2 separate regions of the Homo sapiens genome follow, and region 1 is linked to region 2. The links come from fine-mapping of genetic effects on gene expression. A gene starts in region 2. The other region holds a variant in brackets. All regions are shown on one strand. Distances are between the middles of the regions. Region 1 has its middle 9.2 kb from the start of PRSS36. Region 2 holds the start of BCKDK (branched chain keto acid dehydrogenase kinase).

The links.
Region 1: its variant is fine-mapped to the expression of BCKDK in whole blood (TOPMed, PIP above 0.99).

What each region holds. Positions count from the first base shown.
Region 1 is chr16:31,154,374-31,164,138 of GRCh38, reverse strand. No RefSeq gene overlaps it. Among named protein-coding and RNA genes, the nearest start is that of PRSS36, 9.2 kb to the right of the region's middle. The variant G/A (reference allele first, on the strand shown) is at 4,286.
Region 2 is chr16:31,104,299-31,114,063 of GRCh38, reverse strand. BCKDK (branched chain keto acid dehydrogenase kinase) reads right to left here and starts at 5,678. Exons shown (of 12, transcript NM_005881.4): 1 at 5,585-5,678; 2 at 4,646-5,017; 3 at 4,485-4,553; 4 at 4,281-4,391; 5 at 3,940-3,987; 6 at 3,740-3,859; 7 at 3,565-3,663; 8 at 3,303-3,376; 9 at 2,845-2,973; 10 at 2,675-2,764; 11 at 2,037-2,195; 12 at 1,273-1,943. The coding sequence starts at 4,840. The coding sequence ends at 1,799. RefSeq lists enhancers at 4,168-5,060, 5,061-5,954, 7,562-8,378 and a silencer at 5,286-5,825.

The DNA.
Region 1 (9,765 bases), 50 kb before region 2:
GGTTTCAGTGAGCTGAGAATGCTCCATTGCACGCCAGCCTGGGCAATGAGTGAAACTCCATCTCAAAAAAAAAAAAAAATTAACAAGATGCTGAGCATGGTGGTGCATGCCTGTAATCCCAGCAAATTAGAAAGCTGAGGTGGGAGGATGGCTTGAGCCCAGGACTTGGAGATGAGCCTGGGCAACATAGTGAGACCATCTTGCCCCCGATTTTAAAAATAATAATTAAAATAAAAAGGCTGTGGGAAAACATTATGTAATAAAGCTGGAAGATTTCCTTCTCATTTGAGAAGGGGTCTGTTTGTTTGTTTTATAGAGACGGTCTTGCTGTGTTGCCCAGGCTGGTCTGGAACTCCCAGACTCAAGCAATCCTCATGCATCAGCCTCCTGAAGTGCTGGGATTACAGGCATGAGACACCACGCCCAGCCTCAGAGGGTTTTTTAGGTTGTTTTGTTGTTTTTTTTTGTTTGTTTTGTTTTTTGACACGGAGTCTCCCTCTGTTGCCCAGGCTGGAGTGCAGTGGGGTGATCTCAGCTCACAGCAACCTCCACCTCCCAGGTTCAAGCCTCAATTCTCCTGCCTCAGCCTCCTGAGTAGCTGGGATTACAGGCATGCGCCACCACGCTTGGCTAATTTTTGTATTTTTAGTAGAGACGGGTTTTCACCATGTTGGCCAGGCTGGTCTCAAACTCCTGACCTCGTGATCCACCCACCTCGGCCTTCCAAAGTGCTGGGATTACAGGTGTGAGCCACCGCGCCCAGCTGTTTTTCTTTTTTTTTAAGACAGAGTTTTCGTTCTTGTTGCTCAGGCTGGAGTGCAATGGCACGATCTCGGCTCACTGCAAACTCTGCCTCCTGGGTTCAAGCGATTCTCCTGCCTCAGCCTCCCAAGTAGCTGGGATTACAGGCATGCACCGCCACACGCAGCTACTTTTGTATTTTTAGTAGAGATAGGGTTTCTCCATGTTGGTCAGGCTGGTCTCAAACTCTTGACCTCAGGTGATCCGCCCCCCTCAGCCTCCCAAAGTGCTGCGATTACAGGCGTGAGCCACTGCGCCCAGCCTCAGAGGGTTTTTTAACCTGATGATGCGTATCGAAATAGGAAGACATTTTTATTAGTAAATTTGACTTTAGTATTTTTAGGTGAATATGTGTTTTTTCTCCGTGGTGGCAGAAGAAGAAACACATTATCGGATCGCCAAAAAACCTAACCATGAAAGAGTGTAAAATTGGAGAAACAGATATGGTTTACTTTAGTCTACCAGGGACAATTATGTGGCTGTTTGTGTAACATAATTGTTACTTGCTACTTTTTCTGTGGCTGACGATATGCAAAACTCTCTGGGCCAGTACAAAAATTGTGCGAAATTTACCAATGGCTGGAAGCAGTGGCTCACGCCTGTAATCCCAACACTTCAGGAGGCAAAGGTGGGAGGATTCCTTGAGGCCAGGAGTTCAAGACCAGCCTCAGCAACATAGCAAGACCCCCATCTCTACAAAAAATGTAAAAACCTAGCTGGGCGTGGTGGCATCCAAGTAGTCCCAGCTACTCTGGAGGCTAAAATACAAAATTACTAAAATACGAAATACTACATTACTAAAATACAGAATTACTGAAAATACAAAATTAGCCAGGCATGGTGGCCAGGGACTGCTTCAATTTCTCTGCCTTCTCTTTGTCAATGATGACCAGGGTATAAAGGTATCTGCTGCATCGAACTTTAAACTTCACATTGTCCTTATTTTTCTTTTTTTTTCTTTTTTTTCTTTTTTTTATTTTGAGACAGAGTTTTGCTCTTATTGCCCAGGCTAGAGTGCAGTGGTGCAATCTCGGCTCACTGCAACCTCCGCCTTCCAGTTTCAAGCGATTCTTCTACCTCAGCCTCCCAAGTCGCTGGGATTACAGGTGCCCGCCACCATGTCCAGCTAATTTTTTGTATTTTTAGTAGAGACGGGGTTTCACCATGTTGGTCAGGCTGGTCTTGAACTGCTGACCTCGTGATCCACCCGCCTAGACCTCCCAAAGTGCTGGGATTACAGGCATGATCCACCGTGCCCGGCGCATTGTCCTTATTTTTCTTGATCTTGACAGATTTGGCATCCTTTTGTCGGGCTGTGAGCAGAAAGACCTTGATTTCCTCAATTTTCTGAGGCATGGCAACAAGGAACACAGGGAGCAGGCGGGGACCGGGACAGTGAGCAGCGACCAAGGAGAGCTTGAGTTTATTATAAGAGCCTAGAGCCGCCACAGAGACTTTTAAGCAGGGACAAACACTTTTTTTTCTTTTTTTGAGATTGAGTTTCACTCTTGTTGCTCAGGCTGGAGTGCAGTGGCGCGATCTCGGCTCCCTGCAACCTCCGCCTCCCAGGTTCAAGCGATTATCCTGCCTAGCCTCCCGAGTAGCTGGGATTACAGGTGCCTGCAACCACACCTGGCTAATTTTTTTTTCTTTTTCTTTTCTTTTTTTTTTTTTTCTGAGACAGAGTCTTACTCTGTTACCAGGGCTGGAGTGCAGTGGCACAATCTCAGCTCACTGCAACCTCCACCTCCCAGGTTCAAGCAGTTCTCCTGCCTCAGCCTGGGATTACAGGCGCCTGCCACTACCAAACACCCAGCTAATTTTTTGTATTTTTAGTAGAAAGGGGGTTTCACCATGTTGGCCAGGCTGGTCTCGACCTCCTGACCTCATGATTTGCCCACCTTGGCCTCCCAAAGTGCTGGGATTACAGGCGTGAGCCACCTCATCTAGCCCGGAGTTTCACTCTTGTTGCCCAGGCTGGAGTGCAATGGCGCGATCTTGGCTCACTGCAACTTCTGCCTCCTGGGTTCAAGCGATTCTCCTGTCTCAGCCTCCTTAGTAGCTGGGATCACAGGTGCCCGCCACCACTCCCAGCTAATTTTTTGTATTTTTAGAAGAGATGGTGTTTCACTATGTTGGCCAGGCTGCTCTTGAACTCCAGACCTCAGGCAATCCACCCGCCTCGGCCTCCCAAAGTGCTGGGATTACAGGCGTGAGCCACCACTCCCTGCTAATTTTTTGTACTTTTTTTTAAGTAGAGACAGGGTTTCACCATATTGGCCAGTCTGGTTTCAAACTCCTGACCTCAGATGATCACCCACCTCAGCCTCCCAAACTGTTGGGATTACAGGCGTGAGCCACCACGCCTGTCCGTGTCCCTGTGTGTTTGATTAAACTAATCTCAATGGGTTTTCATTATCTAAACAGCTTCCCCTCTCATACGCATTCTCGTTTCAGATGTTCAGAATTCAGAAAATACAAACAACCTGCAGGAGAAATGGCTGCTCAGCTTGAGTACCTGAGGTCCTGCAACACCCCACCTCCTTTGTTTTCCAGAGGGGTTCAGAAAGCTCGCTGTGCTCAGGCCTCCAAGTCAGGGCCATAAGCCTTGTTGCCTCCAGCCATGACTCAAAAACCTCGCCCTCACCCCCATCCCATCCTGACCTCCTCTCTTGCCCCCAAGAGCTCTCCCGGACCCCATACAGTTTATGCAGGAGCACCCCAAAACTGCTCCCCTCAGAAGCAGGAGGACGTCTCTCTCCCAGCAATGAGCTGCCACCTCCTCAGACTCCAACTCGGATTGTTCTCTCTGTGTCTCAGGAACCACCCTCCAAATTGCATACAATGGCCAGGCACGGTGGCTCATGCCTGTCATCCCAGCACTTTGGGAGGCTGAGGCAGGTGGATAACCTGAGCTCAATAGTTCAAGACCAGCCTGGCCAACATAGTGAAACCCCGTCTCTACTAAAAATACAAAAATTAGGGCCAGGCACGGTGGCTCACACCTGTAATCCCAGCGCTTTGGGAGGCCAAGGTGGGCGGATCACCTGAGGTTGGGAGTTCGAGACCAACCTGGCCAACATGGAGAACCCCTGTCTCTGCTAAAAAATACAAAATTAGCTGGGCGTGGTGGCACATGCCTGTAATCCCAGCTACTCGGGAGGCTGGGGCAAGAATCACTTGAACCCGGGAGGCAGAGGTTGCGGTGAGCTGAGATCATGCCATTGCACTCCAGCCTGGGCGACACAGCGAGACTCCATCTCAAAAAAAAAAAAAAATTCTATACAGTGCATCTCACAAAGTGAGGTCCCTTTGAAGTAGGGCAACTCATTTGAGGCTAAAGCGCTGAGTCCTGGGGCAATCTCTGGCTCCGACAGGCTCAGGGTACCAGCATGGTCCCTGGAGACCAAGAGGTGGGTGGGGAGGTGGGGGCAGAGTCTGGGAGTGAAATTGAAGGAGCAGTTACTCTTCTTGCCACGAGAGG[G/A]AGCACCAAGGGGATGTCTTGATCATATCAGTCAAGCGTGGAGTCAACACACAACATGTTCCCAATTTTATCAAGTCTCTCAAATATTCCCACTCAGAGGGTCCCTCATAGAATAACATTCTAACTCCAAGTTTTTTCTGAGAACAAGTTATTTCTGGCCAGGCGAAGTGGCTCATGTTTGTAATCCCAACACTTTGGGAGGCCAAGGCGGGCAGATCTCCTGAGGTCAGGAGTTCAAGACCAGCCTGGCCAACAGGGTGAAACCCCGTCTCTAAAATACAAAATTGTAAAATACAATTTTGTATTTAAAATACAATACTCTATCGTATTTAAAATACTCCAGAATACAAAATTGTAAAAATACAAAATTAGCTGGGAGTGGTGGTATACACCTGTAATCCCAGCTACTGGGGAGGCTGAGGCAGGAAAATCACTTGAACCCAGGAGGTGGAGGTTGCAGTGAGCCAAGATCGTGCCATTGCACTCTAGCCTGGGCAACAAGAGCAAAACTCCGTCTCAAAAAAAAAAAAAGTTATTTCTTCCAAGCAGATATGCAACAATATAGTGACTTAGCAAGATAATATTATGGAATAGGGAACAGGGTTGCCAGGTTTAGCAAAAAATTTTATTTTACTCCTTTTTTATTTTACAAAAAAATTTTGTACAAACGGGGTCTATGTTACGTTGCCCAGGCTGGTCTCGAACTCCTAGACTCAAGTAATCCTCACACCTCAGCCTCCTGAAGTGCTGGGATTATAGGCATGAGCCACCACTCCCAACCAGATTTAGCAAATAAAATAAGTGCCCGATTAAATCTGAATTTCAGGTAAACACAAATAATTTTTTTTTAAGACAGGGTCTTGCTCTGTCACCCAGGCTGGAATGCAATGGTGCAATCATAGCTCACTGCAGTTTCGAACTCCTGGTCTCAAGTGATCCTCCTGCCTCAGCCTCCCAGACCACTGGGATTACAGACGTGAGCCCTGTGCCTATTGGAAACACAAATAATTTTTTTTTGAGATAGGGTCTGGTTCTGTTGCCCAGGCAGGAGTGCAGTGGCATGGCTCACTGCAACCTCTGCCTCCTGGGCTCAAGCCATCCTCCCACCTCAGCCTCCCAAGTAGCTCCCAAGTGCACACCACCACATCCAGCTATTTTTTTTTTTTTTTGAGACGGAGTCTCGCTCTGTCACCCAGGCTGGAATGCAGGGGCGCTATCTCAGCTCACTGCAAGCTCTGCCTCCTGGGTTCGCGACATTCTCCTGCCTCAGCCTCCCGAGTAACTGGGACTACAGGTGCCCGCCACCATGCCCGGCTAATTTTTTTGTATTTTCTTTTTAGCAGAGACGGGGTTTCACTGTGTTAGCCAGGATGGTCTCAATCTCCTGACCTCGTGATCCGCCCGCCTCAGCCTCCCAAAGTGCTGGGACCACAGGCTTGAGCCACCACGCCTGGCCCACATCCAGCTAATTTTTTAAAAAACTCTTTGTAGAGATGGGGTCTCACTATATTGCCCAGGCTGATCTTAAACTCCTGAGCTCAAGCAGTCCACCTGCCTCAGCCTCCCAAAGTGCTGGGATTACAGGTGTGAGCCACTTCACTTGGCCCGACAAATAATTTTCAATATAACTCAAGTATTTCCTGAGACCTAGTTATAGTAAAAAAAAAAAAAATCGTTTATCTCAAATTCAGACTGAGCTAAGTATTCTGTATTTTAGCAGGCACTCCAAAAGGAGTGACACGTGCTTTAAGAGTTTTATACACCAGCTGGGTGTGGTGGCTCACGCCTATAATCCCAGCACTTTGGGAGGCTGAGGCGGACAGATCACCTGAGGTCAGGAGTTGGAGACCAGCCTGCCCAACATGGCGAAACCCCATCGCTATTAAAAATACAAAAAAATTAGCCGGGCATGGTGGTGGACACCTGTAATCCTAGCTACTCAGGAGGCTGAGGCAGGAGAATCACTTGAACCCGGGAGGCAGAGGTTGCAGTAAGCTGAGATCGCAACACTGCACTCCAGCCTGGGGGACAAAAGCAAAACTCCGTCTCAAAAAAAAAAAGAGTTTTACAAACCAAATGTTTGCAGTGGCTGCGCTCACGCCTGTAATCCCAACACTTTAAGAGACTGAGACGGGTGGATCACTTGAGGTCAGGAGTTCAAGATTAGCCTGGCCAACATGATGAAACCCTGTCTCTACTAAAAATACAAAAATTCGCTGGGCATGATGGTGGGCACTTGTAATTCGAGCTACTTGGGAGGCTGAGGCAGGAGAATCACTTGAACCCAGGAGGCAAAGGCTGCAGTGAGTGGAGATTGCACCACTGCACCCCAGCCTGAGCAACAGAGTGAGACTCCGTCTCAAATAAAAAATGAAAATAAAATGCAGCTTTCTCTGTCATGGCACCCATTCTGGTGTGCATGAGGACAGACAGCCCAGATTATTTTTCGAGGAGACATGTGGCCCTGCCCACAGTATATTCCACAGAACAGCCCTGACCAGAAGTGGAGTGACTCCCAGCTTCTGGCTTCCTCTTTTCACGATGAGATGCGGCACTGCTGGGCTTCGCTGGTGTGGAGCGCGTGCGGCTGTGTGCTTGAGCTGTGAAACAGTCTTCTGCTCCCTCTGGTCAGCACCTTTGGAAAGTGTGGTGAGAGCAACAATACTATCAAGGATTATCTGAAGAATGCCTTTTTTTGTAGGTCAGTGATAACCAGACATTTTAGTGACAAAGCCAATTCAGAAAAAAAGTAACCTGTTACCAAAATCCTTTAAAAAACATGATCTCTTTTATCAGGAAACATAATATCAACATCTTTGGTTAAGCATGCTTTTCTTGTTTTTCCAAATGCTGAAGGGTTTCATTATTTTAGCTAAGCTTTCAGAAACAACATTACACACATGCCCTGGTGTTATCGGATGTAAAGCTGCACATTTTCCCAACGTTTTTGGTCCAGGAAAGCATTTCTGGAGCTAGTTCGTTTGGCTTTTTCTTAATTGACTCTGGAATCCATTTATTTGCAAAGTGTGTTTTGCCTCTTTTAATTTCTTTTTACTCATGTGGAATAACCATATAGTTTTTTTTTTCTTTCCTTCTTTCTTTCTTTTCTTTTCTTTTTTTTTTTTTTTTCTTTTTTGAGACAGAGTCTCGCTCTGTCACCCAGGCTGGAGTGTAGTGGTGCAATCATAGCTCGTTGCAGCCTCGACCTCCTGGGCTTAAGTGAACCTTCTACCTCAGCCCGAGTAGCTGGGACTACAGGTGCATGCCACCATGCCTGGCTAATTTTTATTTTATTTTATTTATTTTGGGGACGGAGTTTTGCTCTTGTTGTCCAGGCCGGAGTGTAATGGCACGATCTCAGCTCACTGCAACCTCTGCCTCCTGGATTCAAGTGATTCTCCTGTTTCAGCCTCCCAGGTAGCTGGGATTATAGTCATGCACCACCATGCCCAGCTAATTTTGTATTTTTTTTTTTTTTTTAGTAGAGACAGGGTTTCACTGTGTTGGTCAGGTTGGTCTTGAACTCCCAACCTCAGGGGATATACCCGCCTTGGCCCCACAAAGTGCTGGGATACAGGTGTAAACTTTTTTTTTTTTTTTTTTTTTTAGAGATGGGGTCTCATTATGCTGCCCAAGCTAGTCTCAAAACTCCTGGGCTCAAGAGATCCTCCCACCTCAGCATCTCTAGCTAAGTTCATAGAGAGTCCTGATCTTAAGGGTACGGCTCAGTGAAACTCTGCATGTGTATATTCCTGTGTATATACACACCTACATCAAGATCTAGAACTTTCTTGCACTCTAGCAAGTTTCTCTGTGCTCCTTCCCACATAATATAATACTTCCACCAGAAGCAACCACTATTCTGATTCCTTTTTTTTTTTTTTTTTTTTTTTGAGATGGAATCTTGCTCTGTCACCCAGGCTGGAGTGCAGTGGTGCTATCTCGGCTCACTGCAACCTCCGCTTCCCAGGTTCAAGCGATTCTTCTGCTTCAGCTTCCTGAGTAGCTGGGATTACAGGCATGTGCCACCACACCCGGCTAATTTTTGTGTTTTAGTAGAGACAGGGTTTCACTGTGTTGGCTAGGCTGGTCTTGAACTCCTGACCTCAAGTGATCCGCCTGCCTCAGCCTCCCAAAGTGCTGGGATTACAGGTGTGAGCCACCGTGTCCGGCCACTATTCTGACTTCTACCACTGGGGATTAGTTATGCTTGTTCCTAAATTGCATATAATTGGAATCATGCAATATGACACATATTTGTTGAAAAAAAAATCTGTAAGATTCATCCATGTTGTTGCAGATATCAGTAATTCATTCTTTTTTATTGCTGCATAGTATTTCAGTGTATGACTATGCCACAATTTATCAATTTTCCTGGGGCCGGACATTTATGTTCTGGATCTTGGCTCTTGTATCTAGACCTTCTATGAGTGCCATGCTCTGCATATGCCTTATGGCACCCTCATTTCTCTTAGGTCTATACCTAGGATCTTGATTGTTGGGTCAAAATACAGGCATATGTTTAGCTTTCGTCTATTCTGCCAGTTATCTTTTCTTAATTTTTATTTTTAGGAATAGAGATGAAGTTTTCACTATGTTTTCCAGGCTGGTCTCAAGCTCCTGAGCTCAAGTGATGCTCTCGCCTCAGCCTCCCAAAGTGCTGGGATTACAAGGCATGAGCCACTGCGCCTGGTCTTTTTTTTTTTTTTTTTTTTTGAGACGGAGTCTCACTCTGTCGCCCAAGCTGCAGTGCAGTGGTGTGATCTCAGCTCATTGCAACCTCCGCCTCCCAGGTTCAAGCGATTCTCCTGCCTCAGCCTCCCGAGTAGCTGAGATTACAGGCGCCTGCCACCATGCCCGGCTAATTTTTTGTATTTTTAGTAGAGACGTGCCTAAGTTTTGTAATTTTAGTAGAGACGGGGTTTCACTGTGTTGGCGAGGCTGGTCTCGAACTCCTGACCTCAAGTGATCTGCCCACCTCAGCCTCCCAAAGTGCTGGGATGGATTACAGACGTGAGCCACCACACCCGGCCCCGTGCCAGACTTCTAATCTTTGAAATTGTAACATAATAAGTTGGTATTGTTTTAATCCACTGAGTATATGGGAATTTGTTACATCAGCAATGGAAAACTAATATACTAGTTCACCTATCATTTCCCCCTCCACTAGTCAGACCAGTAGAGAACTGCGTATGTATCACCTTTCTTACCCAGAGGCACCACCCACATATCCTTATTTTATTGACTGTGGTTTGTTTATGGTGTCATAGGCTGAAATTAAGCAGCACTATAAAAATCAACCTTAGGCATGGTGACACATGCCTGGAGTCCCAGCTACTCAGGAGACTGACATGGGAGAATCGATTGAGCCCAGGAGCTCGAGGCTGCAGTGAGCTATGACCATGCCACTGCACTCCAGCCTGGGTGACAGAGTGAGTCTCCATCTCTAAAAAAAAAAAAAGGCTGGGCATGGTGGTTCA
Region 2 (9,765 bases):
CTTAGGTTAATAGAGCTGTTCACTTTCCCAACTGACTTTAACCAGTGACTGCCAAGTGGAGAAATTAATCAGTAACTCTGAGGTTTAGCTCTCTTACCTTCAACCCTGAGGCATAATTGACTGGTTCTGGGCTTTTGCCTGAGGTCACATCCTTGCTTGGCTTCCTCCCCTTCCCCTTCCTACTTCCCCTACTCTGTTCTGGGAGCACTTTCTTAAGAAATCACGTGGACATGAATCCTCTCAGGGACTCCAACCAGAAACATCCCTTCCCAGCTCAAAACCCACTCATGGGCCAGCTGCAGTGGCTCATGCCTGTAACCCCACCACTTTGGGAGGCTGGGGTGGAAGGATCATTTGAGCCCAGAAGTTCAAGTCCAGCCCGGGGCAACATAGGGCTTTGTAGAAACCCTGTTTCTACAAAAAATTTTAAAATTTAGCCTGGCATGATGGTCCAAGCTACTCAGAAGGCTGAGGTGGGAGAATCTCTTGATCCCAGGAGTTCAAGGCTGCAGTGAACTCTGCAGCCACCATATTCCAGCCTGGGCAACAGAGCAAGACCCCATTTCTAAATAAATAAAAACTCACCCATGGATCCCTATGGCTCAAGATAAATCCCATGTTTCAGGGCCCTGGCCTCTGACTGCTGCCTGCCTCTCCAGCCTCAGCACCCTGCCTTGCAGCTGGCGGGATTTTTCAGTCTAGCAAGTCACTGTGGTTTCCTAGCCCCTGCCATTTGGCTTCCACATACAACTTCCCCTCCATCCCCGTGAAGGGTAGGAGATGGTACAGGCCTAGAGCCAGCCTCAGGAAGTTTGCTGTGGGAGCTCACATGTGAAGGCAAGAGAACTTTCCAGTTCTCCTCCCAGCCCCACCAGGCCGCCCTTAGGCCTTTCTTCCCTGGCAAGGTGGGTAGGGTGTTCCTACCTAAGATGTCATCTGGAGTTCTGATTCAGGTCTAACCTTGAGCCTACCTGATATCTTTGCCCAAATCCTTGGTCCTTTCTATCAGGGCCCCACCTTTCCTTGCAGTGGGGCACCCAGTCCCTGCTAGGGCCTGCCAAGGCACAACCTTGTATGTTCTTTTCCTTGGCAGCAGCAGACACAGTATTTTTAACCTACTCAGGCTTGGGAAGCAGTTGGCTCAGGAGTTTGCCCAGTCTGGTGACCTTCACCTCTAGAAACTGTGACTGCCAGGAAAGGAAGAGTCAAAACTGATGCCCGAAGCTGGGTCAGTCTGGGCCTTCAATATTATCTGGGACCCGGAAACATTTGTTCAACAAGATGAATGAAAGCTCTTTGTATAAGGTGCTGCAGTCATCCCACTCCCACCAAATCAAACATGCAACAGACTTGGGACCCATTCTACTCCTGGCCTGCCAGGCTCTCAGGGCAGGTAAGAGACTGGGACACGAACCAGTTCAACCCAAGGGCTCAGTGAACCTGAATGGGGGCAGAAACAAAAGTTCACCTGCCCTCCCCACACACGGGGCCCGAGAGGGCATTCAAAATGTGAACTTTAATAACAGGTCAGAGTGGGGGTTCCCCAGGAACGAGAATGACGGAACTGGTGCTGGAGGCCTCAGGGTGCCCACTTCCCTGCTCCAAGTTCTGGAGGCGAGGAGGCAATGGACCCTGTTGAGGCAGGGCAGTGCCCAGCTCCATGTAAGTCCATCTGTCTGGGTCCCTGAGACCCAAGATGCAGCAGTGTGTGGAGCAGGGGGCCGCCCTGCCTGACCCGGGAGGTCCTGCAGGGAATGCGGCCCAGGCTGGTCGGGTGAGCAGGCCAAAGGCTGTGGGGTCAGATCCGGAAGCTTTCCTCCCGGCCATCGATGTGGCGGAGCCGCAGGTAGACGTCCGTGCCAATGCCCTGCAGGGACTGCAGCTGCAGAGACCCACCGAGGTACTCCGCGTAGGCCCGTGACGTGGGCAACCCGAAGCCAAAGCTGGGGGTGGGCAGGGGGACAGGACAGGAGGCTTCAGAGGCTTGAGTCTCCTGGGGTCCCCCACCCCTCCATCCTGGCCTGGCAGGGTCTCACCCGTGCATGGGTCCTGACTGGGCGCCACTATGCATGTCCAGATGGCCAAAGAGGGGGCTGATCCGGGGGTCCTGTGTGCTGGCCTCAGCAGTAGTGAAGTGGTAGTCCATGACCCGGTCCAGATCTTTGTGAGCGATTCCTCCACCACGGTCTGAGATCCTAGCAAGATGGCAACAACAATGGGCTTGGCTCAGCTTTGATGGGGTACTCACCACCCCCCAAGCAGACAGTGCAAAGTCTGCCTTCCTGTTCCTTCCACCCAGAGCTGGAATGTGGTCCACCTAGACCCTTGGGCCTTGTTTATATCATCCTCACCCCTGCCAGGGCCACTGACTGCTTATACCTTCTCACAGGATGTGACATTTATCCTCGGCCCAGCATCCTAGACCGACTCCTGACTATTTCTCAATTTCAAGCTCCTCAGCTGCTGACAGAGGCAGGATACCTAGGCCTGCAGCTGGCCCCAGATCCATTAATAAGCAGCTCATGGCCATCTCAGGATTCAGAGAATAGTTTGTCTGGTCAGGGACCAAGTCCCAGAATGGGGCAGGAAGGGGCTCAAGGTCCTAAATCAAGTCAGAAACAGTGCCTAGACCCCCATCCCATCCACCTCAGCTCAACTCCCACTCAGGGCAAACCTGATGATCAGATCGACATCATTGTTGGCGATGGTGATGACCACATCTGGGACATTGTAGGGAGTGTCTAGGTGACTCTCCATTGTGGCTCTATGCAGAGGGGAAAGACCAGTAGGTACAAGCACCCCGGTTCCTGTCCGCCCCCAAGCCAGCACATCAAGCCACCCCACCTCATGGCATTCTTGAGCAGCTCCGGCAGGATGTAGTCCAGTGGCATAGGGATGAAGGGGAACCGGGCAGCCACATGGCCATTGATGCGGACACGGGGCGCATTGCCATACTTGTGCTCACACAGGCGTCTGCGGATAGGAGCGAGGGTTCAGTCAGGGGCCCCTCCACCAGTGGTTTGCAACTGGAAACAATTCTGCCCCCCTAAGTAACATATGGCAATGTGCAGAGACATTTTTGTTTGTCACAACTAGGCAGTACTGCTGGCGCCAGGGATGCTGCTGAACTTCCTAACGTGCACGGGGCAGCCCCTGTGACAAAGAATTATCTGGCTGGAAATGTCAATAGTGCCATGGTTGAGAAACCCTGCTCCCCGCAGATCATGCCCCGGGCAAGGGCTCAGACCCAAGCCTTCCCTGCCCCAGATGTCTGCCCACCCCCTGAGCCATTCTTGCCTCACCTGGCAAAGTCCACCCACTTCTCAATAATCTTCTTTGGTGAGAGACGAGTACAGATGATGCCGACAAAGTCAGGCTGGCCGGAGAAAGGAGGTCAGGACTACCCACGCCCCTAGCCCCACCCCAAGATGCTGGCAACTTCGGAACTGCCCCAAAGCACCAGCCCCACAGCCTCAGCCCCCAGGCCCTTGACCCGGATCCCCAGCCCAGTCTCCTCTGTCTCACTTAATGTTCCCAGGTGGGTCTCAGGTCCCAGAGCCCCACCTTGTCCTCATGCAGCGCCAGGTGATGCGTGGCCAACATGCGGATTCCAAGCCTCGAAGTCAGCGTCTTGTCCAAGAAGTAGCGGACGAGCTTTTCATCCTGTAAAGAGTGAGGTCTCAGAATCCCGTGCCCTTCCCACCCCCAGCAGGCCCGGCCTCTCCTTTGCTGCCCCAACCTCTATGTGCTTCCGGCTCTCACGTAGGCCCTCTGCCAAGAGGGTCACCACATCCTTGTGGTCATCCAGCAGCTGTCGCACCAGCTGGCAGTACTGGGCCTCGTCCGCCTGGTCCTTGATCTGCAGGTCACAGAGTCATGAGGAAGGGTGGTCCAAGCCCAACCTCTCAGCCCCTCACCCTGCTCTGGCCCAGCACTCACCGGAGGGAAGTCTGTCAGCTTCTGGAAGGCACGGATATATAGCTCATGCTGCAAGGAAGAGGTGTGGGAATTCACAAAGCCGCATGGGCACTGAGCAGAGAACAGCCACCCCCACCTACCCATGGGGATCACCACCCAGCTGGTCGACCACGTGATCAAACCCCCACTTCGACCCTTCCAGGCTCCGTGAATACACACCTTTGGCTTCTGAAGGCCTGGGGTTGAATCCTGTGTGGCCCTGACACCTTTAGGCAAGCAATCGTCTGCCACTCTGGGCCCCAGACTCCCCACTTGCCCCCGGGGCAGGGTGGCCCGCTGACCTAAGGTCCTCTCTACCTTACCACGTGCAGTATGGTGGGGTTGCAGCCAATGATGAAAGGAAGGCAGCGGAAGCCCTTGATGCGGTGAGCAATCCTCACTGGAAGTTCTTGCTGCAGGTACCGAGCACTTTTCTGGGAGAAAATGAGAAGGGAAGGCGGGGCTGGAGCCTGAGTGTCTGGGAGAGCTCCAGGATCCACGAGGAAAATAGAGGGCGTGAATCTTACCAGAAGGTGGCTGCCGTCCTGAGAGCGGCCAGCGTAGAGCATCATGGTGGGCGTTAGGCGGACTGAGGGCTAGAGAGGGAGAGAGGCCTTGAGCAGAGAACCCCCAACACTCTCCCTCCCGCCTACATCCCGGACCCTGGGCTGGCTGCCCCCTTGCGCACCTTCTCCGCTGCCGCGTCGATGGCCGACTGGTTGTAAAAGGAGGTGACGGTCTTGGAGCGCTCCCGAGCCATCTCCACGTGGTGTGTGTCGGTGGCCGACGTCGAGCGGGCCCGGAGCGCGAGTGCGGGTCCCAGGAGGGGCCGGAGCGGAAGCCCGCCCCCGGGACCGCTCCTCAGCACCGACGCCAGGATCATCGTCTTGCTCCTTTCAGACCCGGTGGCCGCTAGGACTGAGGATCCGCTAGGACTGAGGACCCAGGCGACCCAAAATGGGGCAAGGGGGTGTGGGTGGGTAGGGGCTCTTCTCCGACTTCAGGGACCAGGGTGCGTCGAGGATGCTGACAGGCTCAGCCCGCGGAGAGCAGCTCCCATCTACCGGGGCGGGGAAGAGGAAGTTGTAAGGATCCGAATCCACAGAACCCGCACCATCTCTCCACCTGTGCATCGGTCTCCCCAGACCCGGGCGACCTCTCCCCACCACTCCCACCGTCTCCCCAGATGCACACAGGCCGCGCCCAAAGGACCTAGCCTCCCGGGGGCTTCTATTCCCCAACCCGAGGCTCTACTGGCGGTGGGAGGGCTGTCGGGGGAGGAGCCCCTCAGACCCTTCCAGCCCGAAAACCTCGCCCCAGCGCCCCGGGGTCCCGGGTACCCTTCTCAGGGGGCGGGGCTGCCCCTGCCTGCCCAGCGCCTTCAAACCCGGGCCCTGGGAGCGCGGCCAGCGAACGTGCGACACCAGCCCTGGGCCCCTGGGGCCGGCTTGGGAGGGTGCGGCACGGAGTCCCCAGCGGGACCCCCCACGCGGGTCACTTGGTTCGGCCCGGATGCCCCCCATATGGTAGATGCCAGCCCCGTCTGCGCGCCCGCGCTGTGATGGAGGCTGCGGACGTGCGCCGCGGGGCCTCCGCGGACTGAGTAGGCTGGGGTCGCCCCACTTACCGCGGGGCCGGAGCCAGGGCCCGGGTCCCAGCGGAAGGGCTCGAACAGTCCACTCGCCAGGCGCCCAGCCGCCTGCGCCCTCCGCCGCCGTGACGTCGCGTGGGCGGCAGCGCCCGCTGGGTCCTGGGAGTTGTAGTTTGGTCTGAGGACGTGCCGTCCCGGGCGCCCGCGCATCCAGGCCACGCCCTTGCTCCCGGACCCCAAACAGCACCGCTTCCTCCACACGGCTCTCGAGGCTCTCCGTGTCCCTCCCAGCCTCTATCTCCTGCTCTATGAAACGGGCTCCCTGGGAGCTGGAAGATCTTAGATGTAAAGCGCACAGATCACGCCCTACCTGACTCCTTCTCGGAGCTCTTGTCCTCCTTCCAGTTCTTGGTTCATTTATGGGTAACCAGGCTTCAAACCCCAGCTCGACCCCTTAATATCTGGAGCAAGTTATTTAACTGCTCAGTGCTTGGTAAGATGAAGAGATATCATCAGTTTTGGGGTTGTGTGGATTACATGAATTTATATGAGTGCCTAGAACAGTGCCAGGCGTGGAATTAGCACTATATAAGGGTTAGGCATTATTATTATTCACTCATGCCTGCAGATAATGCAAGTCGCTGACTGGGTGTCTTTTCTGCACCAGGAGAGGAGATTGGGCAGTGAGTTGAATAGATCTTTCCGTGCCCTGCATAAGAAAACAGTTTCAGTATCATTGGCTGTGATGAGGACTTTCAGAGGAGGCTGCGGGAGCCTCAGATAGAAACTGAGACAGCTGTGTAGGTGCAGCCTGAGTAGGACTTGCAAGGGAGCGGGGTGGGAAGGGTGTGTGGCAGGACAGACAACAGCCCAGATGGTCTGAGGATATGGCTGGAGCCATATGGGATCTGGGAAGGAGAGGGGCGGCAGCAGAGAGCGAAGGATAAGTCTGCATTTGTCCTAGGGTAGTTAGGAACTACTGAAGGGTTTTAACTGGTGGGCTCTCCTCCTTAGACAGAACCCCTTGTCTGCAGTGATTTAGAGTGGGGCGTTTGGTGAGACCAAAGGCAGAGAAACCAATAAGAAGACAATTACTTTAGGCCAGGCGCAGTGGCTCAGGCCTGTAATCCCAGCACTTTGAGAGGACGAGGTGGGCGGATCTCAGGAGTTCCAGACCAGCCTGGCCAACTTGGCAAAACCCCGTCTCTACTAAAAATACAAAAATCAGCCGGGTGTTGTGGCTGGCGCCTGTAATCCCAGCTACTCGCGAGGCTGAGGCAGGAGAATCGCTCGAACCCGGGAGGAGGAGGTTGCAGTGAGCCGATATCCCGCCACTGCTCTCCATCCTGGGCAACAAGAGCAAAACTCCGTTGCAAAAAAAAAAAAAATTATCCAGGCAGGAGGCGCTGGAAGGGACACGTTTCAGTGTGTGCACGTGCATATGTGTGTAGTGTGTATTTGTACTAATTGCAATTTTCTTTACCATGGTTATATATTTCCTAAATATGTTCAATAAAAAGTGCTAAGTGAAGCAAGTGACATCTTTGGAGGCTATCTTTATTTATTTATTTGGAGATGGGGTCTCGCTCTGTTGCTCAAGCTGTAATACAGTCGCTCCATAGTAGCTCACTGCAGCCTCCGACTTAAATGATCCTCCCACCTCAGCCTCTCAAGTAGCCGAGACTGTAAGTGTGCACCACTACCCCCAGGGTGATTTTTTCCCCCTCAGGCAATCCTTTTGCCACAGCCTCCCAAAGTGCTGGGATTACAGACGTAACCCACCGTGCCTGGCCTATTTTTCTTAGAGCCGGGGTCTCGCTATGTTGCCCAGGCTGGTCTCAAATTCCTGGCCTCAGCCTCCTGAGTTGTTGGGGTTACAGGAGTGAGCCACTGGGCCTGGCGGCTGTCTTTAAACTTGGAGGTTAGCCAGGTGCAGTGGCTCATGCTTGTAATCCCAGCACTTTGGGAGGCCAAGGCGGGCAGATGACCTGAGGTCAGGAGTTCGAGACCAGCCTGGCCAATATGGTGAAACTCTGTCTTTACTAAAAATACAAAAATTAGCCGGATGTGGTGGCATGCACCTGTAATCCCTGCTACTCGGGAGGCTGAGGCAGAAGAATCGCTTGAACCCGGGAGGCGGAGGTTGCAGTGAGCCAAGATCGTGCCAATGCACTCCAGCCTGGGCGACAGAGAGAGGCTCCGTCTCAAAAATAAATAAATAAATAATAAATAATAAACTTGAAGGTGAAAAAAATAAATAATAAATAATAATAAATATAAACTTGGAGGGAGGACGCCTCACCGTGACTGGCCTGCCTGAGCAATTGGGGGCAGACCACGGGAAAGGGGCGCCCTGCATCTCTGGGTTTCCTCTTTGACCCCCACCCACACCATTCCCACCCGTTCTTTCCCAACGTCCTGGAGTACAGCCAGGCGGCGGCAGCCCCAAGGCAGCCACGGCTGGAGCCCGTGGTAAAAGGGAGCGGGAAGGGTGCTCCTGGCGGGGAGGACAGGCTGCGCAAAGCAGCAAAGGACTGGCAGTGGTCTGTGCGCCAGAATCTGGCGCTCACGTGGCCGCGGCGTGGACAGGAGCCGCAGGCGGAGGAGGCTGCGGCTGCCACCGAGGTGGAGAGGTCTGGCACAGGCCTCACCCCATTTGACCCCGCTCGCTAGGCCCCGGCTCGGCCTGGACTCGCTGCTGCCCCCGGCGGCGGAGGTTGGACATGCACCTCGCGACCCCCTTTTCAGAATACTGTATACAGGTCAGGCGGCTTTCTTTTTTTTTTTTTTTATTTTTTTATTTTTTTTTTTTTATTTTTATTTTTTATTGATCATTCTTGGGTGTTTCTCGCAGAGGGGGATTTGGCAGGGTCATAGGACAATAGTGGAGGGAAGGTCAGCAGATAAACAAGTGAACAAAGGTCTCTGGTTTTCCTAGGCAGAGGACCCTGCGGCCTTCCGCAGTGTTTGTGTCCCTGGGTACTTAAGATTAGGGAGTGGTGATGACTCTTAACGAGCATGCTGCCTTCAAGCAGGGCAGAGGGGCTCCTCACTTCCCAGTAGGGGCGGCCGGGCAGAGGCGCCCCTCACCTCCCGGACGGGGCGGCTGGCCAGGCGGGGGGCTGATCCCCCCACCTCCCTCCCGGACGGGGCGGCTGGTCGGGCGGGGGGCTGACCCCCCCCACTTCCCTCCCGGACGGGGCGGCTGGCCGGGCGGGGGGCTGACCCCCCCACCTCCCTCCCGGACGGGGCGGCTGGCCGGGCAGAGGGGCTCCTCACTTCCCAGTAGGGGCGGCCGGGCAGAGGCGCCCCTCACCTCCCGGACGGGGCGGCTGGCCAGGCGGGGGGCTGATCCCCCCACCTCCCTCCCGGACTGGGCGGCTGGCCGGGCGGGGGGCTGATCCCCCCACCTCCCTCCCGGACTGGGCGGCTGGCCGGGCGGGGGGCTGACCCCCCCACCTCCCTCCCGGACGGGGCGGCTGGCTGGGCAGAGGGGTCCTCACTTCCCAGTAGGGGCGGCGGGGCAGAGGCGCCCCTCACCTCCCGGACGGGGCGGCCGGCCGGGCGGGGGGCTGACCCCCCCACCTCCCTCCCGGACGGGGCGGCTGGCCGGGCAGAGGGGCTCCTCACTTCCCAGTAGGGGCGGCCGGGCAGAGGCACCCCTCACCTCCCGGACGGGGCGGCTGGCCGGGCGGGGGGCTGACCCCCACCACCTCCCTCCCGGACGGGGCGGCTGGCCGGGCAGGGGGCTGACCCCCCCTCCCCCCTCCCGGACGGGGCGGCTGGCCGGGCAGAGGGGCTCCTCACTTCCCAGTAGGGGCGGCCGGGCAGAGGCGCCCCTCACCTCCCGGACTGGGCGGCTGGCCGGGCGGGGGGCTGACCCCCCCACCTCCCTCCTGGACGGGGCGACTGGCCAGGCAGAGGGGCTCCTCACTTCCCAGTAGGGGCGGCCGGGCAGAGGAGCCCCTCACCTCCCGGATGGGGCGGCTGGCCGGGCGGGGGGCTGACCCCCCCCACCTCCCTCCCGGACGGGGTGGCTGCCGGGCGGAGACGCTCCTCACTTCCCAGACGGGGTGGCTGCCGGACGGAGGGGCTCCTCACTTCTCAGACGGGGCGGTTGCCAGGCAGAGGGTTTCCTCACTTCTCAGACGGGGCGGCCGGGCAGAGACGCTCCTCACCTCCCAGATAGGGTTGCGGCCAGCAGAGGCGCTCCTCAC